7 linked regions of the Homo sapiens genome follow. The protein of the gene in region 5 purifies or fractionates together with the protein of the main gene of each other region. This does not show direct contact. Each region holds a gene or a part of one and is shown on either strand. Other genes may lie near its edges. The genes, in order: SULT1C4, PUDP, INF2, FAM174A, CCZ1B, SPANXN3 and DNAI2.

Evidence for each region.
Region 1: the proteins of CCZ1B (region 5) and SULT1C4 purify together in Homo sapiens (co-immunoprecipitation; one large-scale study listed by IntAct). This does not show direct contact.
Region 2: the proteins of CCZ1B (region 5) and PUDP purify together in Homo sapiens (co-immunoprecipitation; one large-scale study listed by IntAct). This does not show direct contact.
Region 3: the proteins of CCZ1B (region 5) and INF2 purify together in Homo sapiens (co-immunoprecipitation; one large-scale study listed by IntAct). This does not show direct contact.
Region 4: the proteins of CCZ1B (region 5) and FAM174A purify together in Homo sapiens (co-immunoprecipitation; one large-scale study listed by IntAct). This does not show direct contact.
Region 6: the proteins of CCZ1B (region 5) and SPANXN3 purify together in Homo sapiens (co-immunoprecipitation; one large-scale study listed by IntAct). This does not show direct contact.
Region 7: the proteins of CCZ1B (region 5) and DNAI2 purify together in Homo sapiens (co-immunoprecipitation; one large-scale study listed by IntAct). This does not show direct contact.

What each region holds. Positions count from the first base shown.
Region 1 is NC_000002.12:108,380,954-108,384,453, reverse strand, and holds part of SULT1C4 (sulfotransferase 1C4), read right to left. Parts: intron 2,743-3,500; exon of another isoform or gene 2,693-2,742; coding exon 2,567-2,692; intron 2,070-2,566; coding exon 1,972-2,069; intron 1,362-1,971; coding exon 1,235-1,361; intron 1,039-1,234; coding exon 944-1,038; intron 1-943. UniProt on the Homo sapiens protein: Sulfotransferase that utilizes 3'-phospho-5'-adenylyl sulfate (PAPS) as sulfonate donor to catalyze the sulfate conjugation of phenolic compounds.
Region 2 is NC_000023.11:7,078,654-7,082,153, reverse strand, and holds part of PUDP (pseudouridine-5'-phosphatase), read left to right. Parts: intron 1-3,500. UniProt on the Homo sapiens protein: Dephosphorylates pseudouridine 5'-phosphate, a potential intermediate in rRNA degradation. Pseudouridine is then excreted intact in urine.
Region 3 is NC_000014.9:104,692,618-104,696,117, reverse strand, and holds part of INF2 (inverted formin-2), read right to left. Parts: intron 1-3,500.
Region 4 is NC_000005.10:100,580,374-100,583,807, forward strand, and holds part of FAM174A (membrane protein FAM174A precursor), read left to right. Parts: intron 1-973; coding exon of another isoform or gene 974-992; exon of another isoform or gene 993-1,031; intron 1,032-3,434.
Region 5 is NC_000007.14:6,823,476-6,827,694, forward strand, and holds the start of CCZ1B (vacuolar fusion protein CCZ1 homolog B), read right to left. Parts: upstream 2,801-4,219; 5' UTR 2,723-2,800; coding exon 2,603-2,722; intron 1,263-2,602; coding exon 1,165-1,262; intron 1,074-1,164; coding exon 980-1,073; intron 692-979; coding exon 614-691; intron 1-613.
Region 6 is NC_000023.11:143,514,676-143,518,861, forward strand, and holds the start of SPANXN3 (sperm protein associated with the nucleus on the X chromosome N3), read right to left. Parts: upstream 2,801-4,186; 5' UTR 2,717-2,800; coding exon 2,639-2,716; intron 2,220-2,638; exon of another isoform or gene 2,015-2,219; coding exon of another isoform or gene 1,940-2,014; intron 1-1,939.
Region 7 is NC_000017.11:74,312,234-74,315,384, reverse strand, and holds the end of DNAI2 (dynein axonemal intermediate chain 2), read right to left. Parts: intron 2,731-3,151; exon of another isoform or gene 2,557-2,730; coding exon of another isoform or gene 2,425-2,556; exon of another isoform or gene 1,845-2,424; intron 1,265-1,844; coding exon 1,169-1,264; 3' UTR 1,114-1,168; intron 797-1,113; 3' UTR 501-796; downstream 1-500. UniProt on the Homo sapiens protein: Part of the dynein complex of respiratory cilia.

The sequences.
Region 1 (3,500 bases), on a different chromosome or scaffold from region 5:
AGATTGAGACCTGGCTAACACGGTGAAACCCCGTCTCTAGTAAAAAATACAAAAAATTAGCCGGGCGTGCTGGCGGGTGCCTATAGTCCCAGCTACGTGGGAGGCTGAGGCAGGCGAATGGTGTGAACCCGGGAGGCGGAGCTTGCAGTGAGCCAGAGATCGCGCCACTGCACTCCAGCCTGGGTGACAGAGTGAGACTCCGTCTCAAAAAATAAATAAAATAAATAAATAAATAAATAAATAAATAAAGTATTATGTTCCTCAGTGCTAATAAAAAAACAAAAACTCTGGGCATGGTAGCTCATGCCTGTAATCCTAGCATTTTAGCAGGCTGAGGAGGGTGGAACACTTGGGATCAGGAGTTCAAAACCAGCCTGGCCAACATGGTGAAACCCGGTTTCTACTAAAAATACAAATAATTAGCTGGCATGGTGGCAGGCGACTGTAATCCCAACTACTCCGGAGGCTGAGGCAGGAGAATCTCTTGAACCCGGGAGGCGGAGCTTGCAGTGACTTGAGATCGCACCATTGCACTCTAGTCTGGGCGACAGAGTGAAACTCCTCCTCTGTCTCAAAAACAAAAACAAAAACAAAAAAAACCCAAAAACCAAAGAAACCAAAATGTGCTAGGATTTTTTTTCCTGCTAAACTGCATTTTAAAATAGACATGCAAGGGAGAAAATGACACCATCCATATTGTGTAATAACCTGCCTGTAAGGGAAATGTGCAGCATCCCTGGGAGCACCAGGAAGCTGCAGGTGAGACTGTGTGATACTTAAACTCATGATCAGCCATGTGCACTTTGACAAATGACAGCTGTAACCAATGAAGTGCAGCAATTTTCGGTTCCCCGCATCAATCTGAGTCCCTGATGGGGTCAATGCATTATGACTTAAATGTTTTATGGTCCAGTGGGTACACCTTAGATGGCACTGTGCTCACCTTCTTCATGTCCTCATAGAAGAGATAGAGAATACGGTGTTTGTCTTTGGCTTCCCACCATCCTTTCACATGTTCATGCCAGGAGCCCCAGCACACTGGAGGATGGGATGGAAAACAGGACAATGAGTCACAGAGGTCCTATTATACCACTGAAAGGAGAATTCCTGAAGAGAAGTGAGAATGTTCCATTAAAGAAGGCAGAGCCCCTGCTGGTCAAAAGAAAAGATTCTTTCCTTCTAGGGTGTTTGGAGATTTTGAGAAACGAAGGGAAACAAAGCTAAATTCTCTCACCTTTCCCAGCCAGAAAAGTCTCAAAATACTCTTCCCATGTTCCTGGAGCAGGAAGAGCTTTATTCATTCTTTGGAAATGGTAATAGGACACCATGTTGTCCTTGGGATTTCTTGCTACATAGATTATCTGGGAATGATGAGGGGAGGGGAAGGGAAGAAGCAAAAAAACAGGAATTTTTTTTTTTTTTTTTTGCTGTTACTGCCCAGGCAAGTCATGTTAGGGTAGATACATTTCATACAGTTCATTTTTTCTGAGGCTGCATTCTTGTCATCCTGGTTATGGGAGACTTTTTTTTTTTTTTTTTTTTTTTTTTTTTGAGATGGAGTCTTGCTCTGTCACCCAGGCTGGAGTGCAATGGCACTATCTTGGCTCACTGCAACCTCTGCCTCCTGTGTTCAAGCGAGTCTCCTGCCTCAGCCTCCTGAGTAGCTTGGATTACAGGCATGTGTCACCACGTCCTGTGAATTTTGTGTTTTTGGTAGAGATGGGGTTTCGCCGTGTTGGTCAGGCTGGTCTTGAACCCCTGACCTCAACTGATCCACCCATCTCAGTCTCCCAAAATGCTGTGATTACAGGCATGAGCCAACGTGCCTGGCTAGGATTCATATTAATTTGCATATTGATTATTGTGAAGAGGTATATATATATATATTTAACAAGTGAAGTGTTTTAAGAGGAAATGGAAGACTAAGGTTGTTTTAAGGAGTACAACTCTGAATTCCTTTTGCTTTTTTACCTTACAGTTTTTCTCTAGCAAGGATGGTGGCAGCAAGTGAAAGGGAAGATGTGTTTTCAGGATCCGTGGTGAGGGCATTGCATGAGCTTGTTCCAAACCTGCAAAACTGGTTTTCGATCAATTTCTACGATTTTTTTTTTATCTATTTGCTTCCAAGTCTTGCTGCTTCCATTATTACTACTACAATTCAAAGCATCTATAAGAACATTGTAACTGTAGATCTGGTGTGAGAGAATACGTCTAGCCTATGAATAGATGTTTTGACTAGAACAATTCCTAACCATAACAGTCATCCAAATAAATAAGAACCTAAAAAATTCAAACCCTTTCACCAGGATTATCTTACTTGAGCTTATTCTTTTGAAGTAAAATTAATTTCTAACTAGAGAAACAAAATTTAACTCACTTTTGTACAAACAGTAATTCCATTAGAAAATGTCTGGAGTATAACAATGGCCAGACACAGTTAAAAAAAGACAAAACCATGAAACTTACCAATAATTGTTTGAAAGCCTATAATTTCGAAAGGTGCAAAGACAGTAAAAATCCTAAGTGCATTTTAGGACTGTAGTGAAGTGTGGCTATTTATACTCACCAGATCCTAAGGATGGGATTTTCATTTCGAGGAAAGGAAATCGTTGATGAGTCGGTGCCCGTTTACTTTTCTCCACATCACCTTCATTTTGTATTAATTCCACTATCTCCTGAGTCCATGTTGTTCCTTACGTGCACGTAAAATGAAGATGAATAGACATCTAGTATAGTACATTCCTTAAAATATGATCAAATACTTGTTAGAACATCTATGTCTTTTGTTTTGTTTTGTTTTGTTTTGTTTTTTGAGACAGGGTCTTGCTCTGTATCAAGGCTGGAGTTCAATGGTGCAATCTTGGCTCACTGCCTCCTGGGTTCAAGCGATCCTCTCGCCTCAGCCTCCTGAGTAGCAGGGGTTACATGCATACACAATCACCCCTGGCTAATTTTTATACTTTTTGTAGAGACGGCATTTTACCATGTTGCCCAGGCTGATCTGGAACTCCTGAGCTCAAGTGATCTGCTTGCAAGTGATCTGCTCGCCTCGGCCTCCTAAAATGCTGGGATTATAGGTGTGAGCCACCATGCCTGGACCATCTATGTGAATTTAAAAGCTAGGTTTTAAATGGGATTCAGAAGATAGCATTCCTTATTTATATCTTATTATCATAATATGATTTTAAAAAAATACTCCAATTTTGAATGGACATTAGACTGATAAATATACATTTATTTTTTTCTGTCACAACTATTAATTTGGATTGTTATTATTGTTCTATTTATTTAGCTGTATTGTCCTTAGAAAGGACATTCTCCCCAAATTGTGATCTGCTATAGAGAAATGACTACATGATTTTCAAACTCTCTTTTTCCCAGTTGCATAGCGTAGGAGACACTTAGTATTTGTTGGCTGAATGAGTGAACCATTAGGGCTTGAACTTGATATTGACCATTAGCACTTAGTATTCAATTTTTCGCCTTTCTCTGTTTCCCCC
Region 2 (3,500 bases), on a different chromosome or scaffold from region 5:
TACCTAGATATCTGTCTCTCTGCCCTTCCTGTAAACCCACGGAAGCACACCAAATTCTAGGAGCTGGGAACTGGAGTTCATTTATACACATAATTAACCAGCTTCTCCCTAGAACAGAACTCCATTTGCATTTTTTCGTCTTTTACTTCTCAGGGAAAGCCACTGAGTGAGACAAAGTTTGTGTGCACTCTTTAAAAGATGAAAAACTTTGTGAAGGCATCAGGCAGTTTTGAATCAGGTGATTAGGATCGTTCATTCCTGATGATACACTGGAGCTATATCTGATGATAACGACACTACCTAACATTTATCTGGGGCTTCCTCACCCATGTCATTTTCCAGGCATTGTTCTTCTTGTGAATTAATTCCATGAGGAACGTTAATCATTGCTCTTTGACAGATGACAAAATTGAGGCCCAAAGAGGGCGTATAATTGACGGATGTCCCGTAATCTCTGACTGTGGTCATAGTCTTGTCTTGGCTTTCATCTTCATAGGAGTCCCAAGCATTTTGGAGATCTCAGTATGTTGTGGTGGTGTAAAGCAGTCGTCCAAAACCGTTTTTGATTCATTCTCCATCAATAAGAATGTTGAGCTGCATTCCAGTCTAGACACATTGGTGTGTGTTTGTTTATCTACTCCACCTTAGAAATAATTCACAGCAATAGAAATGCAAGAAGGATAAGCTAAAATAAAATAATCGGCCGGGTACAGTGGCTCACATCTCTAAGCCCAGGGCTTTGAGAGGCCGAGGCAAGAGGATTACTTGAAGCAGAACTTCAAGACTAGCTTAGCTAACATAGGGAGACCCTGTCTCTACAAAACATAAAAAAATTTACCAGGCATGGTGACATGCACCTGTAGTCCCAGCTATTCGGGAGGCTGAGGCTGGAGAATCGTTTTGAGCCCAGGAGGTCAAGGCTGCTATGATTGTTTGACTCTGCTCCAGCCTGGGTCACAGAGCAAGATCCTGTCTCAAAACAATAATAATAAAATAATCTGTTTAAGTTTTTAAAATTAATAGCACCAAAGTACTTTAAGAAAATTTTTATACAGTGTGTTTTACAGAGCCATGTGTTTAAGTGTGCTCCATTTTTTAAAATATTGGTTTAAAATTGTGTGATCTAGCAATTTAAAAATCTTGTTTTAAATTCAGATTGTTTTGATACTCAGCTTTAATCACTGTTTATATCCAGACAGAAGTTCATGATTGGCTAATTTTTTTTTTTTTTTTTTGAGATGGAGTCTGGCTCTGTCACCCAGGCTGGAGTGCAGTGGCGCTATGTCGGCTCACTGCAACCTCCACTTCCTAGGTTCAAGCGATTCTCCTGCCTCTGCCTCCCAAGTAACGGGTTACAGGACGCACTGCCACACGTGACTGTCTCTTTTTTAAAAAAATTAGAGCCTTTTATCTCATCCATCAGTTAGGTTAAGGTTTAAATTGAAATTTAGCTAATAAATATAGTCCTCTGTGATACTAATCAGTGGTTGTTGCAAACTAATGAAATAGTGTGGCATTTTAGTATTTTTAACTAATGGATTCAAGTTCTGTAGAAGCTCTTTAGGTGGAGTACTTCTACACTGATTGAATATTGTTTTTATGCGTGGAGGTATGTGTATGTATGTTCATGAGATCTGTCGTTTTCTTGTCTGGCTTTTGTCTGGTTTTGGGATCAGGGAAGTGCTGATGTAAAATGTAAAATGAGTTGAGAGGTGTTCCCTCCAATTTCCTGAAAAGTCTGTTTAGAATTGGCATCCTTTTTTTCTTGGGAAGTTGGTAAATTTACCAGCAAGGCCATTTGATCCTAGATGTGGGAAGGAGGTTTTTAATTACAAATTCAATTCCTTTCATAGGCAGAAGGCTATTCAGGTTATTTGTGTCTTCTTGAGGGAGTTTTATATCTTTCAAAGAATTATCTCATTTCATCTAAATGGTCAAATGTGTTGCCATTAATCCTATAATAATTAAGTTTTTATCATTTTATCGATGTTAGAATCTGTAGTGATGTCTGTCCCCTCTTTCCCTGCTAATGTTAGTACATTTGGATCTTCTTTATTTTTTTGATCAGTTTAGCTAGGAGTCTACTAATTTAATTGCTCTTCTCAAACAACTCGCTTTTGATTTAGTTGGTTTTCTGTATTCTACTTTTATTTCATTGATTTTCTCTCTCATGTTTATTATTTCCTTCCTTTTATTTGTTTTGGGTTTAATTTGCTCTTTTCCTTCACTTTCTTAAGGTAAAAGCTTAAATCATTGAACTTCTTTCTTTCAGGTTTTCAATGTGGCAACTTAGATCACTTATTTGAGACCTTATTATTTAACATATCACTCAATGCCATCAGTTTTCATCGAAGCAATGTTTTAGCCACATCCCAGAAATTTTGGTAGTTTTTAGTTCTCTACAAAATATTACCTAGTTTCCCTTTGTGATTTCATCTTTGACCCATGTCTTACATAGAAGTGTAACATCCAAATATTTGTGATTTTCCACATTCCTATTATTAATGTCTATTTTAATTCTACCATCGTTAGATAAGGTATTCTGTATGATTTTAAGTATTTTATAATTTTTGAGAATAGTTTTATCCTTATAATAGGATATTTCTTGTTGAATGTTCCACGTGCACTTAAAAATAATGTGGTTTCTGCTGTTGTTGGGAGAAGTATTACATAAACGTCAATTAGGTCAGGTTGCTTGACAGTGGTTCTGAAGTCTGCTGTGTCCTTACTTCTTTTCTGTCTACTTGTTTTATCAATTACTGATAGAGGAGTTTTAAACTTCCTTCTACGTTTGTGTTTCTCCATTCAGTTCTATTGGTTTTTGCTTTATGCATTCTGAAGCTCTGCTATTTGATGTTTACACATTTAGAATTATGTCTTATTGATGAACTGATCTATTTGTCATTATGAAATGTCCCTATTTATCCCTGATGATAGTCATTCATTGTTCTAAAGGCTTGTTTGTTATTAATGTAAGTAACCTGGCTCTCTTTTGAGCAATAGTTATGTGGTATGTAGTTTTCTATCCTTTTATCTTCAATCTATCTGTGTAGTTATATTTAAAGTAGGTTTCTGTAGACAACATGTAGTTGGGTCTTTTGTTTTTCTTTTTTATTCTGATAGTGTCTATCTTAGGTGTGTTTATAATACTTATAAAGCCGTTACATAAGGTCATGATCTGCTAATTCCATCTGTCTCTATCATTTCTGTGTCTATTTCTCCTGATTGTGGGTGGTATTTGCTTCTTTGCAGCATGGTAATTTTTGATTGAATGTTAGACACTATGAATTCTACACCCAGTGGAGTGCTAGATTTTGCTTGATTTCATTTGCTTTATTTAACTTTGTCCTGGAACTACATTATGATCTGTCCATGCCTTCCTTTTAAAAATCTTTAGAGGGTCAGGTGCTCCAGATATCTGTTACCTTATCCTGAATGACTGTAGGTGTTCGGAAAAAATGAGTCTGTTGATTGTTTTGTGTAACAATTGACAAAGTAGG
Region 3 (3,500 bases), on a different chromosome or scaffold from region 5:
CAGAAGACAAAGATGGGAAGCAGGCCGCATGGTGACGGATTTCAATCACATGGTGGGTGCGATACCACCGGGACACCTGCCCAATCACTAACTGAAGCTGCATCTCGGATGAATATGGTCGTTTCATACTGAGGAAGAAAGCAAGCAAAATGATCAAAAGACAGCAACATCTCACAGAGGGAAGCTGGGCTCAGAGCGGTGGTAGCCCCTGCTTGGGTCACCCAGAGAGCAGAGCTGGGGGCCAGGGGTCCTTCATGGCACTCTGGCAAGTGTCGGTGGAGGTGGCTGGGGGGTCCGGGCTGGCCAGCACTGAACGCCAGGGGACACCACTGGCCCGGGAGCCAGGCTACAGCTGGGCTCTCTGTGTCCCCAGGATCTGGGGCAGACAATGGGCCTGGGGAAGGTACATCTTCCTGGGTTAGGAACAGAGCCCTGTGGAAGCCACAGGGAGGAGGGTGACTCTGTAGGGGGGGTAGGGGGATGCAGCAAACAGGAAATGCCCCGGCTCACTGGGAGGAGGGGTCACTGGGAGGAGAGTCGGCAAGCGCAGCCCAGGCAAGGGAGGACAGGAAGGGCGGAGGCCCCACGCCAGGAAGCCCAGCTCTCGCTTCCACCTGCACTGAGGGTGTGCAGGGCCTGGGTGGGTGGGCGGCTCGCCAGTCACCGAATGGGCCTTCTACAGGCCACAGTGTCTCCACTGCACAAACAGCAGGGCCAACGGGGTGCTCCCTGAGGGCCTGGTCACCTCTGGCGTTCTCAGGGGTCTGGGCTGGAGTCTGGGGGCCCAGGGAGAGGCATGGGGGGACGAGCGGCTACATGGAAGTACTTCCTGGGCCTGAGGGCCTGCCAGCACCTACCATGGCTGTGGCTGGGAGTGACGTGTACAGATCTGTGGTTAGGGACTGGGAAGGGCACAGGGCCTGATCAGGCCCTGCAGGTGGCATGAGCCCAGGGCTGGCCTATCGCAGGCCCCAGACGTACCCTGCAGGGGGTCTGCTGGGCAATGAGGGCAGGTGGCCAGGAGCTCGTCACCAGAATCCTCCCACCTGGGTTTCCTCCCCCCGGACCAGACATACTCAGAGATGCCTCCTCCGAGGCCCCAGGTCCCTCCTCTGTCCTCAGAAAAAGCCTCTCTCAACCTGGGAGGGGGAAGGGCAGCAGCTCATTGGAGCCAGGCCCCGGCTTCAGGGTTCAGGTCCTGATTGCTGTGTGCCTAGCTGGGCCCCAGGGTGTCCAGCCCCCACCCTGCCTGTGCCAAGACAAGACGGCTGCCCGCTGCCTGCCCACGAGCCAGGCTCCATGGTCCCTGCCCCCAGCCTACATCCCCGCTAGCAGCTGCCTTCCCAGGAGCAGGGAGAACAAAGACAGATTGAGAGTGGGGGAGAGGCTGAGCCTGCGCACCCAGCACGGCCAGGGGCTGCTACCAGGGCCCAGGGTGGGGGACGGCTCTGATTCAGGGTGAGACTGGGCTCTTCCGCTGACCGGCCTGTGACCCATAGGATCTCCTGGTTCCTGTCCTCAAATGCGGATGAGTGTGTCAATGCCACCCCCACAGCTTACTGACAGATTGACGAGATGCCACCTGTAATGCCAGTGCATAACCACGCACTGACCGCCCGCCTTCCCACTCAGCCCACCTCCTGTTTGGCGGCTGGGACGGAGCTAGGACGTTGCATGAATCTTCCCAGCCCCTGCTCAGCGTCTCTTGACCTCTGCTCCAGGCAGCCAGTGCCAGGGAGCCCGTCAGGCCCAACTGGGCAAACAAGATCCTCAGCGTGGGTGCAACATGCCGCTTGGCAATGCTTGCTGGGACACGAGGGTGCCAGGGGCCTGGGACAGCCAGGCCCATTCTGGACTCAGTTTTCTCATCTGTAAAATGGCCAGGATGTTCTCCAGGGCCCCGTAGCTCTGACCTGGGTTGGCTGTGCCAGCACCGCCCGTGTGGCCCCTCCTGGGTCCGGCCCATGGCTCTGCCAGCTCCTGCAGGCAGCCCCTCACTGTTGGGCCTGCACCTCCACAGCCTGGCCTGGCCCAGGGAAGGGGCAGCCGGGGGGGCCCTCTGCACATGGAAGCATAGGCAGGGGCCCTGGGTGTCCCCAAGGGGCTCCCGTTCTCAGGCCACTCATGTCTGTGCACAAGGTGGAAGCAGAGGCAGGTGGGGACAGGTGGCTACTCCCTCACCCCCACCCTGTGTCCTCCTCCCAGCGTAGGCTGGGTGCAGGCGACAGTCTGAGCTGTGCCTGGAGCAGGAACAGGGACCCGGGGGCACAGAGGGTGGGGCAGGCAGGCTGTACACCGAGGCCATGTCCCAGGGCCTGCAAGGACCCAGGTACAGATGGGGAGATGGAGGCCAGTGGGATGCTGGCCCTCCTCGCACAGCTGGCCACGTCCACCCCCGACCCGGCGAGGGCCAGGACAGCTCAGGCACGAACAAACCCCTGCACCACTGGCCATGCCCACTGGGACTCCATGCGTGTTGGGCAGCTGGCCACTCGCTGGGCAGAGCGAGGGGCTGGGGCTGGCCTCTGCCCACAGCAGCTGAATGGGGGCTTGGAGATGATACAGAAAAGCCACTACCCGGGGCTGGTGTGCTCAGCGGCCACTGCTTCCCTCTCCCTCCCTCCTCAACTGTGCCCTGGGTTAGCCTCAAAGCTAGGCTTTGACACTAGCCCTCGTCTGCAAAATGGGAAGCAGACAGCCTGCCCTCCGCCCCCAGTGTGGCTCCTGGTTGAGTTCTGGCCCACCAAGGGCTGCCTGGGGGCCTCTGCCTTCACTGTGAGGTGGGCCCGGGGCAGAGCCCTGTAACAGTAGGACAGCCCTCCAATCCACCCCACTCCCTCTCCCCCACCCCACCTCTCCCACTTTGGACCTTGGGGTGCTCAGACTGTGTCCAGGTCACAGGAAGCAGGTGGGGTGGTATAACGCTGTCACAGCACGGGAGCACAGGGTCCCTGCCCAGGGCACCAGGGCCAGGGGCCTTGGCAGCATCTTCCCATGTCCCTCTGACCCTGCAAAGGCCTTGATCGGCGGCCAGGAGCCTGGCCAGGCCTCCAGTGGTGCCCATCTGCTCCTTCTGGGTCTCCATGCCATTTCCAACAGACAGAGGTTGGGGCTGAGGGAGATGGAGGGTGCCCCAGCCACGGCCAGTCACCCTTCTGGGGTGAGAACAGGAGTGAACTGAGGGCACAGAGGCTCGGGGCAGCCCAGGCTGGCCCTTCTCTCAGGACTCTCCTGGTACCTCTCTCTCCCTCCCTGCTGCCTCTGGGAAAAGCTGCAGGCGAAAGAGGAAAGCAGCCTTGGCCCTTGCCCTTGGCCATTGGCGTGGCAAGGTCCTCAGGGCCTTCACGCTAGTCATCCCATCTGGGCTGTGACCACACTGGTCATTCCACCCAGGCTGTGACCCAGGCCGACTGGCTGGGAGGGCTCCGGGGTCCAGGCTGGCCCTTGGGCAGTTGTCTGTCTGCATGGGCTGCTCTGGAGTGACACAGGTGGTTGCCTGG
Region 4 (3,434 bases), on a different chromosome or scaffold from region 5:
AATTTACTAAGTATTAACTCACACGATCACAAGGTCCCACAATAAGCCATGTGCAGGCTGAGGAGCAAGGAAAGCAGGTCCGAGTTCCAAAACTGAAGAACTTGGAGTCCGATATTCGACGACAGGAAGCATCCAGCACAGGAGAAAGATGTAGGCTGGGAGGCTAGGCCAGTCTCTCACATTTTTCTGCCGCGTATATTCTAGCCATGCTGGCGCTGATTAGATTGTGCCACCCCAGATTAAGAGTGGATCTGCCGCTCTGAGTCCACTGACTCAAATGTTAATCTCCTTTGGTAGCACCCTTACAGACATACCCAGGATCAATACTTTGTATCCTTCAGTCCAATCAAGTTGACACTCAGTATTAACCATCACACTTGCAGTCTTCTATCTTTGCTGGCCACAGCTGAGGGATAGCTTGTCCTGCTTGGTTTTGGAGCACAGCCTCTATCCCTGCCATTCTTGCCAAAAGAGCGTCCTGTTAACAGACCCACTAAGATTATACCGTGTACTCCTGGTTCTGTTGCAGAGTTTGTTTGTTTGTTTGTTTTTGTTGTTTGTTTGTTTGTTTTGAGATAGATTTTGGCTCTCGTTGCCCAGGCTGGACTACAATGGCGTGATCTCAGCTCACTGCAACCTCTGCCTCCCGGGTTCAAGCGATTCTTCTGCTTCAGCCTCCCAAGTAGCTGGGATTACAGGTGCCTGCCACCATGCCAGGCTAATTTTCTGTATTTTTAGTAGAGGCGGGGTTTCACCATGTTGGCCAGGCTGGTCTCGAACTCCTGACTGCAGGTGATTCACTCACCCGGGCCTCCCAAAGTGCAGGGATTACAGGCGTGAGCCACTGCACAAGGCCTGCGGCATTTTTTTTGAGTCAACCAGTCTACCTTCTACAACTTCTATATCACCTCTCCAGAGAGTAGGAATCCTTAGCTACTTTTCTCATACCATATTGATTCTCCACTTTTTTCAGACTGCTGTGGAATTCCTGAGAAAGAGCAACTGAGGGATAGCAACATGGATTTCACTGAGTAGGTGGCAATTGAGTTAAAGTTATTTTTTTAAAGATATAAGTTAATCAAATAAGAGCCTATGAAGGCCCAGCATGGTGGCTCATGCCTGTGATCCCAACACTTTGGGAGGCCAAGGTGGGCGGATCACTTGAGGTCTGGAATTCAAGACCTCGCTTAAGGCTGGAAGACCATGCTTAAGGCTGGAAGAGAATTGGCTTAATTCTTGATAAGTTAAAAATAATTCCAATTGGGCATATAAATAAGAATGCCTTCTTCAATATTACATTTGGTCGTGGTTGAGTCATGCCAGGGAGGGAGTGGGGAGTGGTGGTTCCTACAGTAGCCCCTGAACAGCATGAAAACATCCAGAATAGAATTCTGAGGAAATTCCCACTCAAGGAATGAAATACTCTAAATGAGAGAGCTGGTCATACAGTCTTATAAATATAAACAGGTTCAAGGAAATGTTGGGCACAATGTAATATGATTGCTAGATCATAATAGTTATGCTAATTTGCATATGTTTTGAGGTTAATTACGAGTCTCAAAACGCCTTTCTGAAACCATATCTTAAGAGACTCTTTATGTGGTAGGTAATTTTCTATTTGAAAAAAATCTTTTAGATATTCCTCAGGGTCTCATATATAGTCAAGTTCAAAAGGCTATTTAGTGATAGAATTTGGATTAGGTTCTAGTAATTTTGTGTTCTCCTAGTTTATGAAACTGCAATTTTGATTTTACAGATTGACTTTTTTTCATAGTCTACAAATTCATTATCAGTATTATCATGGGTTTCAAGCGTTAAAAGGACAAGGGCTGTACAAAAGAATTCTAAGTGTTACATGTTTTTTTTTAATAACCTTCAGTATATTTTTTAAAGGATTAAATTTACTTTCAAAGTAAAAATATATTAGAACCTCATTATCTTATACTAATCATTTAGAGAACTATTACAGACTGCTGACTAAAGATTCAGATAAGATGAAAAAGAGCATTATTCATTTTCAGATGTTTTTCCAATGAAGTTCTAAATGTTATTGATGATTATAAAGGAAGATTTATTAAGTTTGTAAAATATGCACATTTTGTTTTTTTTTTTAATTTGGTTTGATCAAATGCTTTTCATTACGATGGCTCTTACTAGCAGAAATATTTTTGGAAGGCAGGATTTAAATTAAGTAGTAGTAAAGTTGTATAATTAGAATTAAAATCTATAAAAATTTGTATGTCAAAATATAGTTTTATATTATAATAAACTAGTTAGGCAATAAGAGAGTAAATGGGCAAACTTGCCCCATTGTAGTGTTTATTGGAAATCTTGTCTTTAGTATGGATAATTTTTGTTACCGTATTATAAATTTCCAAAGCATTGATTGTTTTATAGATTATACCTAGTAGCTTGTAGCTTTAGTAATCCTCATTTCTGAAGGTTAGAAATAGGAACAAATAACTGTATTTATAGGAACCATAGAAATGAATAACTGTTGTTGGCTCTTGAATAACATGGGGGCTAGGGGCACCAACTACACAGTCAAAAATCCACGTGTAATTTTTGGACTCCCCAAAAACTTAACTACTAATAACCTGCTGTTAACTGGAAGACTTACTAATATCATGAACAGTCAATTAACATGTATTTTGTATGTTATATGTATTATATACTCTATTCTTACAACAAAGCATGCTAAAGAAAAGAAAATGTTACTAAGAAAATCATAAGGAAGAGAAAATATATTTACTGTTCATTAAGTGAAAGTAGATCTCATAAAGGTCTTCATCCTTGTCTTCACGTTGAGTAGGCTGAAGAGAAGGAGGAAGGAGGGGCCGATCTTGCTGTCTCAGGGGTGGTAGAGGCAGAAGAGTTGAAGCAGGTGGAAGGGGAGGCAGGCACACTTGGTGTAACTTTACAGAAACACATCTGAGATTTTTGCCTTTTGATTTCTCTAAAACTGTTTCTATTGGTACCAATTCTTCTTCCACAGCTTGCTTTAGTTTTAGTGTCCATATCATAGAAAGGTCCATGTCATAAAAGAAGTTGAAAGCAGTCTTGAATAATTGGAATTCTTCTGCCACATTGACTACTGCCAATTTGTTTTCTGGTACAGCTTCTTCTACATCTTCTTCCTTATCATGTGGCACTGGTTCAGAAGCACTCATCTCCATCAAGTCATTTTCTGTTCATTGTTCCATTGTAATGTCAGTTAGCTCTTGAATTACTCCAAGATCCTCATCTTGACATCTTTTATTACCGATTTTTTTTTTTTGCAATATCCACAGTTTCTTTCATGATTTCCTTGATTGGCTCTATTGTAAATCCTGTGAAGTCATGTGCAACATCTTGAAACAGTTTCCTCCAGCAGAACTTACTGTTTTGCACTTGATGGCTCTCAAGTCTTTTTCAATAAAATAGCAGCATCTTCA
Region 5 (4,219 bases):
TCCCACAATAGTTGCGTGCTGAAAAAAAGTGTTTGCGTTCTTTTTTTTTTTTTTTTTTTTTGAGATGGAGTCTCGCTCTGTTGTCCAGGCTGGAGCGCAGTGGTACAATCCTGGCTCACTGCAACATTTGCGTCCCCGGTTCAAGCGATTCTCCTGCCTCAGCCTCCTGAGAAGCCGGGATGACAGGTGTGCGCCACCATCCCTGGCCAGTTTTTGTAGTTTTAGTAGAGACAGGGTTCCGCCATATTGGCCAGGCTGGTCTCGAACCCCTGACCTCAAGTAATCTGCCTGCCTTGACCTCCCAAAGTACTAGGATTACAGGTGTGAGCCACTGTTCCCAGCCAGAAGTGTTTAAACTCTAATTTGTCAATCAGTAAGCCTTACTTTAGGAGGGCTTTCAATATAGATGAAGAGTAGAAGGTATTAGTGAGATTGGGTGCATATACATTTTAAAAAGATTGTGCTCATGTAAATGATAAACATAAACCTTTGCTATATACCCCGAGAAACTTCTGCAAAAGCCTCCTAGTTTAAATCCGACCAAGTAAGGCATTCAACATACTCAGCAATACATTTAAAAAAATAAATAAATAAACAAACAATGACACATTACCAACAACTCCTCCTCTTGATATTCAATAACTGGTTTTCCATCTTTACTCTGTTTTTCAATTATAGGATTCCGAACAACCTACAAAGTTTGATAAACTGAAATTATACAATGAATTCATTAGACCATGTTTATTTTGCCTTAATTTAAAAACTTTGAACATGCTACAGCACCAGAAACACAACTTCTTAAAACAGCCCCAAGAATGAATAAAGCAAATAGGAAGAACTTGATTTTAAAATTGCAACCAATTTTATTTTAATTTTACTTGGATGCAACAGCCAGAGAACTTTCCTAAATTCTGAACAGTAAAGATCACCCATAACTTCACCATACAATTTCAGAAAGATACACTGTGTGTGTAAATACCATGACCATCCAGAAATTTTCTTCTGGTTCATTGAAGAACTGTCTGTTCTTCTGTGTATGTAAAGATTTTGCAGGTTTTGATGGGCTAAATGTCCTACAAAGGTTAAAAAAATATGTTTGGGACAATTCTCCAGCAGCAGTTTTAAGAATTCACTGAACGCTAAAGGCACACTTAGAGGTATTACCTTGTAAACTGTACAATAGCTTCACACAATCCGACATTTCTAATCTTCTCATTCTTTTCTACCTCATTTGGATGATAAAATAAAATCTTATTTTCCTCCTGAAACATGAGGAAACAGAAGCACAACATGAATAGAAACATTTCATCTTAGCTATTGAAAACGCTAAGTTCAATGTCGACCTCTTGTGTCACACATGCTAATGACAAAATAAAACAAAAACCGGTTTTAGAAAAACAGGAATTGTAATCCTAGTATTTTCAGAGGCTGAGGCGGGAGGATCACTTGAGCTCAGGAGTTCAAGACCAGCATGGGCAACACAGTGAGACGTCTCTATTATTTAAAATAAGAAGAAGAACAGGAATGATCTCATCATTGTGCAAATACTGCCCACCAGTCAGAAAGGCAATTTCGATAGTCAAGAAGTCACATCTGAAGTAGCACCAGGTAATTTTTATGAAAACTCAAGTCTCCAGGTTTCTTTCCTAGTGCTAATTTGTAATACACCAATGCTTGTAAGAAGTAAAGGTGTGCCCATCTGCAGACACATAGCTCCCTGAAAATTAAATCCAGTCAGTTCCCAGCCATTTGAACTGACAAGTTGTTTTTTTTTTCTTTTTCTGGAGATGGGGTCTGTGCTGCCCAGGCTGTAGTGCAGTGGCGCTATTACAGCTCACCTGCAGCCTCAATCACTTGGGCTCAAGCGATCCTCTGGCCTCAGCCTCCTGAGTAACTGGAAATACAGGTGCGTGCCACCACGCCCGGCTCACTTTTCAATTTTTTTTTTTTTTTTGTAGAGTTGGGGGTCTTGCTATGTTGCCCAGGCTGGTCTGGAACCCCTGGCCTCAAGCAATCCTCCCATCTCGGCCTCCTAAAGTGCTGGGATTACAGGCGTGAGTCACAGCGCCCAGCCTGGACAGTCTTTAACAGAAGTCTGACTTGCTGGAAACAAAACACAGCTCCGGACATCCTTTGAGAAAGTCGCCGTCCCCACCTCAGAAAAACCACACACACACACACACACACACCCCTCCCGAAATTAATTTATTTCCTCATTTGGGCGAAAACTATTACAGGGACCTCCAGGCTTGCATCATTTGAAGGCTAGCGTCTGCCACCCTGGTTCCACGCTTCTAGTTGGGGACTACCCACTTAACAAAGCCAAGTTCAATTTTAATTTCCCAGAACTGACGCAAAGCAAAGCGCAAAGAGCCTCAACCTGGGGTGTGGAGTGATATAGACCCGACGGGGCTTTATTCCATCGACCTAGGACCTGAAGCGGTCCCTGCCTGCTGTCAGGTCCCCGCCGCAGCCCCCTGCCCGGACTCGCACCTGGCACAATGCAGGCTAGGTCAGTGCCCCTCGAGGTGGGCAGAACCACAGGGCCACCTTCCCGGGGAACACCGGCGCCGCCCGCCCGCGCGCCGCCCCCTCCGCATACCTGTCCTTCGCGCGGCCCGAAGCGCGGGTTGTAGATGAAGAAACTCAGCAGCGCCGGCGGGAACTGCTTCTCCTGGGCCGCCCAGGGCCCGCTCCCGGCCCCGGCCGCCGCTGCAGCCATCCCGCCCCGGCCCCCACCTCGGGAGCCTCCCACGGCCCGCCCAGAGACAGCAGCCACCGGCTAAAACACCGCACTTCCGCCTCCGTCGCCACCGCCCCGGAAGCACTCGCCGCAGGCCCGGAAAAAGAATCCGCCTCGCAGCGTCCTCTTCAGGCACCCCCGGGTGGCCTTGTTGTCTGTTTCCTGGCCGAGTTTGTGTTTTGCTGGCTCGCGGAGTTTTCTCCTGGCTACAGGCGAGGGCTGCGCGTTTCAGGAAAAACCGAGCGGGCACTGTTTTTTTGTTGTTGTTGTTTTTTCTGATAGGGTCTCAGTTTGTCATCCAGGCTGGAGTGTAGTGGCGCGATCTCAGCTCACTGCAGCCTCAACGTCCGACACTCAAGCAATCCCCCTGCCTCAGCCTCCCAAGTAGCTAGGATTACAGGCGCGCGCCACCAAGGCCAGTTTTATTTTTTTGTAGAGGTGGGGTCTGTGTTGCCCAGGCTGCTCTCGAACTCCTGGCCTCAAATGGTCTCCCACTTCGGCCTCCCAAAGTGCTCCGATTACAGGCGTGAGACACCACCGCCCAGCCTGTTGTTGTTTTGGTGGTATTGTTTTAAATTTAATTTAGAGACAAGATCTCGCTTTGTCACCCAGGTTGGAGTGCAGTGGTGCCATCATAGCTCACTGCAGCCTCAACTCCTGGGCTCAAGGGATCTTCCCACCTCAGCCTGAGGAGTAGCTGAGACCACAGGCATGCACTACCATGCCCAGATAATTAAAAAATAGATAGATAGATAGTAGAGACAGGGTCTCACTTTGTTGCCCCGGCTGCTCTCTAACTCTTGGCATCAAGGGATCCTCCTGCCTCTGCTACTGGATGGAAGGTCTTGACCGTGGATTGCCCAGGTTCTTGGCTTGTTGAACACAGAACTGAACAAAATGCAATGCACAAAGTAACAAAAGAACAAAGCAACGAAAAGAAACAAAAGAAAAAACCGGAGTAAGGAATAGACAGATTTATTGAAGCGAAAGTACAACTCACAGAGCAGGAGCAAGACAGAGCAAACAGCTCAAGAGCCCCCATTAGGATTTTCATTAAGCTGGAAGAATTAGGTAACGCCCCTAGGTGCCCGTTAGAGGTCTCCGATTGGTTACACCCTCTGAAGGATTGGCCTGTGACCAATCAGAGGCTGAAGTGGAGACGCGCACCCGCCCCCCCGTCAATCAGAAGCTGTCACCCTCCCCCCCGGCCAACCCCCTGTCGTCCGTCAATCAGCCTCTGATTGAGGGAATGAACACGTGGCCTCTATGCTGCCTAATCTTGCCTAGAACTGGCTGCACCTGCTGTTCTTTTGTTTATGCCTTAACCCTTGGTTACCCTCATTCCCTATTCTGCCTCACCTGCCCTCCGAAAGTGCTGGGATTACAGATGTGAGCCACCCACACCAGGCCCATTGTTTTGTTTTTAGTTTATTTAAAAAGTATTTTATTCTAAGACAGCACTTTGCTCTGTTGCCC
Region 6 (4,186 bases), on a different chromosome or scaffold from region 5:
TCACCCATATTATCCACCGGTTTAAACTCCCCTCTTGCATCCAGTCAGACAACGGGCCAATTTGTTTCACAGTTTAACCAACAGCTGGTAAAGGCTGTAAACATTAAATTGGCTTTGCATATTCCTTACCACCCCGAATCTTCAGGGAAACTTTTTTAGAAAACAGCAACTGACCAATCTTCCCTAAAGGTTAAAATGGCCTGGACTTCACTTCTCCCATTGTTCCTCATGCATTTATGAGTCATTTCCCAAAAGCTCCTCAGCCTAAGCCCATTTAAACTCATGTACAAATGCCCTTTTATCCTCCAGAATCTCCCTGTATTTTCCCCCCATTCTATATGGAATACTTGGCCGGCGTTACACCTCACCCAACATCTAATAAGACAGTACACAAATGCTTACTTGACCCAGCCTAAAAGTCCATCCTCAAAATACTCCGCCCTGTCCCTACAACCAGGGGACTGGGTCTGAATCACAGACTCCTCCTCCTCCCCTTTCCAACCTAAGCGGAAATGTTCCCACCAGGTTATCCTAACTACTCCGACTGGGGCAAAGCTAACATCCTTTCCACACTGAATACACCATTCCAAACTAAAAAGAGCACCAGACCCACATCTAGAAATTTCCTCACCCCCATATTATTCTCCTTCCCCGACAGGACCAACCTCACTGTACTTAACAAGAATTCCAGAAGTTGCCAATCCAGAACACCTTAGTCCATAACACTCTCTGTCTCCAATTTCCAATCTTTTATCTCCTACTTTATTTCAGATCTTTCCTGGCTACCCTTCCCCATGTCCCTGAATAGTCCATGCCAATTCGTCATACTAATCCAGGAGGTATGACTGCAGGGCACCTTCCAAAATTTCACTCCTACTCAAATCTCCTCTTTCTTCTTTTGTCCTCTTTGTCTGTGGGATACTCTAAGTCCCCACCCCCAACCTCTGACAGTTGAGCCCCCTTCATCAGCCTCACACCTTTCCTCTTAAATCAGTCACACTCCCCTCTTCCTTCCAACTGTTAAACTTGTTTGTCCACACAAATCCAGCAATTCACAGCCCTTCCTGTCAACCTGGCCACATGAACTCGGTCCAAAATAAGCCTGCATCTCACCTACTTGACCAGTTCATTCCCAAACCTGTTTATAATCTTGATCAGCTAAACTCTTTTTCCCCCAATCCATCAAATCCACCCACACCATCACATACAGGGCTGTCACCCTCCCTCGCCTCATAGCCTCTTAACTGAATATGTTACAAACGGATTCCATAAAACACCTTTTAGAAACCCCTCCCCTCTTGGCTGGAGCCGCTCTTCATATTATCCAACTCAAGGGCGCTCGCTGGAAAACATGCACAAACAATTCCCTCAAGTGCAACCTATATCCTTCTGCCCTGTCAGGGCTACAATGGCTATTAGTTACAAAAACCCATTTCCCCCTCTCTTTCCAAAACCAAACAGCCTCCATCTCCTCCACCACCAACATTTCCTATCAGGCCGTCAGAGGGGCTACCCTTGCTGGCAGCTATTCAACTTGGAAAAATATAAAAGTTAAAACAAAGAATTTCTGCAGAATTCAACACCCACCTTCTCATGGCTTGCCACCATAACCTACAACTTTTGTCTGTCCACCCCCAGTGTCTTCTTCTTTTGTGCCACAAACTCTTATCTCTGCCTACTGGCCAAATGGTCAGGAACATACACCCTGGTGTTTCAGCCTAAACATTAACATTTTGCCTAACAAGCAGACCATCCAGGTTCCTTTAGTAGCTTCTGTCTCATCTTCCTCCACACACACTAAGCAGGCTCTACATCTCATTCTAGTGTTAGCAGAAGTAAACATCTCTGCTGCAGTCAGCACTGAGATAGCAGGGGGCCCCTTTCTTAGGACCCTTAATTTTCCTCCTCCTAATACTACAATTGGCCCATGTATATTTACCTTCATATCCCGCTTTATCTCCCGAAGGCTAAACTCCCCTGTCCAGGCGGCCACCCAGCAACACATTGATACCATCCTTCTCCTCTGCCAAGTCCAGTACCAGTGCCTCCAGGAAAACAACTCTGAAGTCCAACACCCACTGCTTCAAAACCCAAACCCTGATTACAGCTCCCCTATTCGGCAGGAAGCAGCCAGATAATCAACAATGCCCCTCTTCCTTTTATACTAAAGTAGAAGGCAAGAATGTGAGTCCAAACCACCATTTAGTAAGCACCCTGCTATTTTTCAGACCTTGGTCAAAGTGAAACATTCCACGGGGGTTCGGGCCATGAGAAAAATCTTGCCTAATCGTCGTAACACAAGACGGACAAAGGTCCAACTAAAGAAACTTTCCTATCATATCTTGCTGGGCAAAGTTTCAAGATACACCACAATGACATCCCACTGGAAAAAGGACCAAACAGCCTGATCATAAAAACATCTTATCAATATCCTGCCGGGCAGCAAGCCATACTGCCCAGGCCCCTCCCACCCCTACCTACAAGCACCCCAGCCTGTAAGCAGCGGTGGGCTCTGGCATTAAGCGGGTCCCCCACTTCCACAGGTGTCTGCAGTATTCCTGTGTTGCTGTTTGAGCCACCCCCTCTCTGTGTGTCTTTCTTTCACCCTCACCTTCCCTTCAAAACCTGACAATCTTACCTCATCATTTTTTTTGTTATTGGATTCACAGGGGCTCTTCGTCTTCTCCCCATTGGTGCTGGAAGTTGGCTGTTCCATGATTCTGGTTGGTTGTAGAATGTCTATAGTAGGCTCCTGTAGACTGCAGACTTCCACAGCTATGTTGAAGCTTCCCAGTGGGATGTCCCAGAGCTCTTGCCCTCCCTATATATACCCTCCTGGTGACAAGGCAAAGCCACACCCTTGAGCTTTGTTTGATCATACAGGCAGTGTCCCAGCCAATGGCGGTCCTAAGGTGGCTTTGACATCACAAAGCCCCACTGCTGACCACTCCTTGGGCTTGTGGGGGAGGGGTGACAGGGATGTAGAGGAAACCAAATGCGGTTGTTGTTTCAGCATCCCCTGAAGATGCATCCCAAACCGATCTGCCGCCGCTCCTCATTTCTCCATGTTTAATGTTCATGGTTCACATGGAAGTCAGAGGATGATTCCTTCAAGCCCTTCCCCACAGCCATTCCTATGAAGTGATTCATTCTTTTGTCTTCCAGCCCTCACCATGACTTAGTATTTTAGATGTCTCACCTCAAATCCCCCAAGCTAGTGTGGCTACATTTAATTATTAGTTATTAATTACTAGTTACATTTAATAATTAATAATTAATTATCCCATTTCCCTCCTACAGTTCCTTCATATGCACCTTGAAGACCATTTACTTTTAGGCTACTGCCAGGCAAATTTCAACCCATGTTATTTTACTCAATGTCCGTGTAGTTCTTTTAAATTTCCTATTTCCAATCTGCAATAATGGCCTTCAGTCTGTCAAAATTTTAGTGAATAAACATTCTTTACTGTGTATCCTAGTCTTGTTTCAAATGAGGGGTGTATTTTCATAGTAAATGTAGTCTCCCAACATGAATTCTGCCAGTATGTGGGTGGGGGAAGGAGTGGATATTCAAGTGCTGGAAGTTGTTCTCAGTGTTTACATGCAGGATGCTACAATCTAAGACCCACATGTGCACCAGTATGGGCATAGTTATACTTTGTACTGAAGATTGTGTCCAGTGCAAAAAGAAAAATGCATTCAGTTTGGAAGGGGAGAAGTAAAAGTGTCTTTTGTCAAAGACTACATGAAAGTATATGTAGAAAAGTCAATCTATAAAAAAGCTTCTACAATAATTGAGGTTAGCAAGATTGCAGAGTAAGAGATCAATACACAAATCAATTGTATGTTTATATATTAGAAGAGGCAGTGTTTCAGCTAATGGTAGTCCTAGGGTGGACTGGAAGTTAATTTCAACAAATGAAAGTTGAAACTAAGAACAGTGCAATTTAAAATATCACTAAAAATATTAAAGTCTTAGGGATAAATCTGACCAAAAATGTAAATGACTTGTACACTTAAAACTACAAAAAAATTGCAATGATAAGTTAATGACATCAAAAATCCAGATGTATACTTTGATTTTCGGTTGGAAGATTCAATATTGTAAAGTGGCAGTTATTCCAAATTCATCTGTAAGTTCAACTCAATTCTAATCAAAATTCTAAAAAGGATTTTTAATAGAAAT
Region 7 (3,151 bases), on a different chromosome or scaffold from region 5:
GATTACAGGCGTGAGCCACGAAACCTGACCAACACATTTTTCAAGGGCATTTTTCAAGGGCACTTTGGGTCCCTGCCAAGGTCACCTGCCATCCACAGGATGATGATGGTCAGGGCATTGTTCCTTGTGCAAGGTTGGCACTGAAGTGCCCTCTCGACCTCCCAATGTCTCTGGTAATGGTCACTGACTGCTCTGTTGAGCTGCGGTTTCAGGGCACCCCCAGGGCAGCCCACTTCCCACCCTGGAGTCCCCGAGAGGCCTGCACAGCACCTGGCCCACAGTTGATGACCGTGCAGGGTCAGGAATGAGCTGCCTGGGCTCCCGTCCCCGCTGTGCCCCGTCACGAGTTCTGAGACTTGGGCACGTCCCTGTACCGCTCCTGGAACCTCCTGTGTAGTATAAAGGTGATGGGAGCACACAGTTCCAGGGATGTCGTGAATGAGTTACACGAGATAACGTGACAGGCTCTGGGTGCAGGATGCATCACACGTACTAACTCGTGGCATTGTTACGATTCATTTAATTTTACAAGAATTAGGATAACAGAAAGCATTCAGGTGCAGCAGAACAGCCAAGCTCGTCCCGCCCGTCCCCTCCCACATACTTGGAGGCTCCTGTCGTGGCAATGTGTCCAAATGGTCAGGGAGCTGCCTGGAAAGGTATTTTCAAAGTGGACAGACTTTCTGTTCCTGATTTGTAGGTGGACGAGGAGGGTCGATCATGGAGGAGAAACCCTTCCCCACTCCTGAAGGTCTTCCCGAGGCCCTGCCATGGCCATGCAAGTCTGGTTGAGGGTCTGCAAGGTTACAAACGAAAATGATTGCTGGGGAGCCTGTGAGAAGCTGAATCCCAGGAGACATCCAGGACTAGGACTAAGGTGGCCTCGGCCTTGGGGTGGGCTCAGGGTGGCTGAGACAATGGGGCAGCCAGCTCCGGGACAAGCCCCGCCCCTTCCCTCTCTCCAAGGGGTGGCTCAGGACTCAGTGCCCAGTGAGTCAGTGGGGGCTAGTGATTTGTAGGGGCTGGGGAGTCAGGGCCCGATGCTCCCAGCCCACCACCCAGTGCTGCTTTAAGGCGGAGCTCAGCCTCCCACTTGTGAGAGCGGGGCAATACCAAGAGGTGGGAAAGGAAGGCACACAGGGATAGCGCCGCAGTCGAAGGCTGACTTCTAGGCTAAGTCTTCTTCCACTTCTTCATCCCCTTCTTCCCCCGCTGCTTCCTCTCCCTCCTCCACCACCTGGTCTTCTTCTGGACTTGGTTGCTGCTGCAGGGGAAGACAGCACAGAAGTGTTGGTGTTGGTAGGGGACAGGCCTTCCCCACTCCCCTGGGATGTGAACCCCACGAGGACCAAAGCAGCCAAATGGCTGAAGCCTGGGTCGCTGAGCACCCTGGAACCCGGGTGCCAGCTCTGCGGCTGGTGAGGGCCCAGACAGTGCGGAAAGTGGGCAGAGCTGGGGGAATCTGGCAGACTTGGGTTCACGCCTGGCTTCTGCCACATGCAGACTGGGAGGCCTCGGGCTAGCTCCTCCTGAGTCTCCTTGGCCCCCTCACCCATAGAGAGGACAGGACACCTTGCAGGGCTGTGGCCAGGATTAGAAATAGTGGGCATAAGGACCCAGCCTATGTAAAACAGCTTCAGTACCACGCGGTACTTTGTGACCACCAGCGTTTTGGGCCAATTGCAGACTAAGAGAGAGACAGGAAGTGTGTGGCAGGCAGGAGGAGGAAGGGGCCAAGTTCTGTGAACCTGAACCCCTTCCAAGGCTCAACTTCTTCATGTAGAATGTTCAAGCCATGGTGAGGAGCACGTTTTGGGACATATGTCACAAAGCATGGTGCCTACCAGCCACCATTGCGTTGTAAAAGGTGGCCAGTGTCATCTTTGCCTTCTGCAGGGCTGGATAGGCCAGGAGTGGTGAGTGGGAGGAGCCCTGGATTAGGCGTCAGAATCCAGGATTCTAGTTTTGCCTCCACCAGAAGTGGAGGGAGCTCTCTGCCCCACCTGTATTACCCAGTGTGAGAAGAAAACATCTCATAACCAAGTACCCCCAAATGCAAAATGCACCTGTGGAAATCACAGCTTTAGACCCAGGGGGAGGGAGGCAGAAGAGGGAAGAAATCACAAGATGGAACCAGTTATCTTCCCTGTGTGCTCATGCACCATCCTTCGCTCTGTCCACTCTATCAGGGACCAAGAACTTGCCATACAGCTCTTCTTCAAGCAGGCGTCATGGGTGGGTGCTCTGTGCAGATACACTGGACCCTGTCTCAGCAGGGCCCACGCTTGGTTTAACGCTCTATTGTCACTGTTTTAAAATTATTAATACTTTTTAAACGAGGGCCCTCACATTTTCATTTTGCAGTGCCTGCAATCCCCAAGTCTGCAGCCAGTCTTGCCTACAAGGGTAAATCCTGGCATATACCCGCTGTTTCTTTTCCCTTCCACGCTGCTCTTTGGCTCTTTCATATCTTGGCATCTTATCTGTGGGGCCTGAAGGAGGTGACCCAGACAGGCAATGTCTTTTCTTCCTCTCTCCGCTGGTACAAAAGAGGGCCTGGAAGATGACCAGACACCATCTTTATAGCAACATCTCCTCATTTTCCAGATGGAAATGAAGGAAGCCAGAAGTGAAGCGACCAGCTCAGGTGATACAGCTAGAAAGTGCTTTAGAGCTGGGGCCATGGGCAGATGAGCTGACCACAGGTCACACTCCTGACACCAAACCTGGGTAAGCCAGCATGACGTGCACACCGCTAATGTCCCAGCCCTTCCCTCCAGGGGTCTCAAGGCCCATTCCTCTCTGACAGCTCACTTACCTCTAGGACCCTCGTTCAGTCACTCAACACACATGTTCCCTCGTTCAGTCACTCAACACGCATTTTCACCATGTGCCCTCTCTGGGGGGAGGGGAGGATACCAGGAGGCATGGAGTATGGTTCCTGCCTGTAAGGAGCCTGAAGTCTGTTTGGAGACTTGGGATGCTTTGGAAGGAAGGGAATAATTCTTCCCACTTGCCAGGTGAATAAATTAAGATCTAGCAGGTAAGACTACTTGCTCAAGGTCACCCAGGAAGTCGGCAAGCAGAAGCAGAACCCAAGTGCCATGTGTCCCGCCCAGTCCCCAACCCACCCAACCCCTGTCCAGGCCCC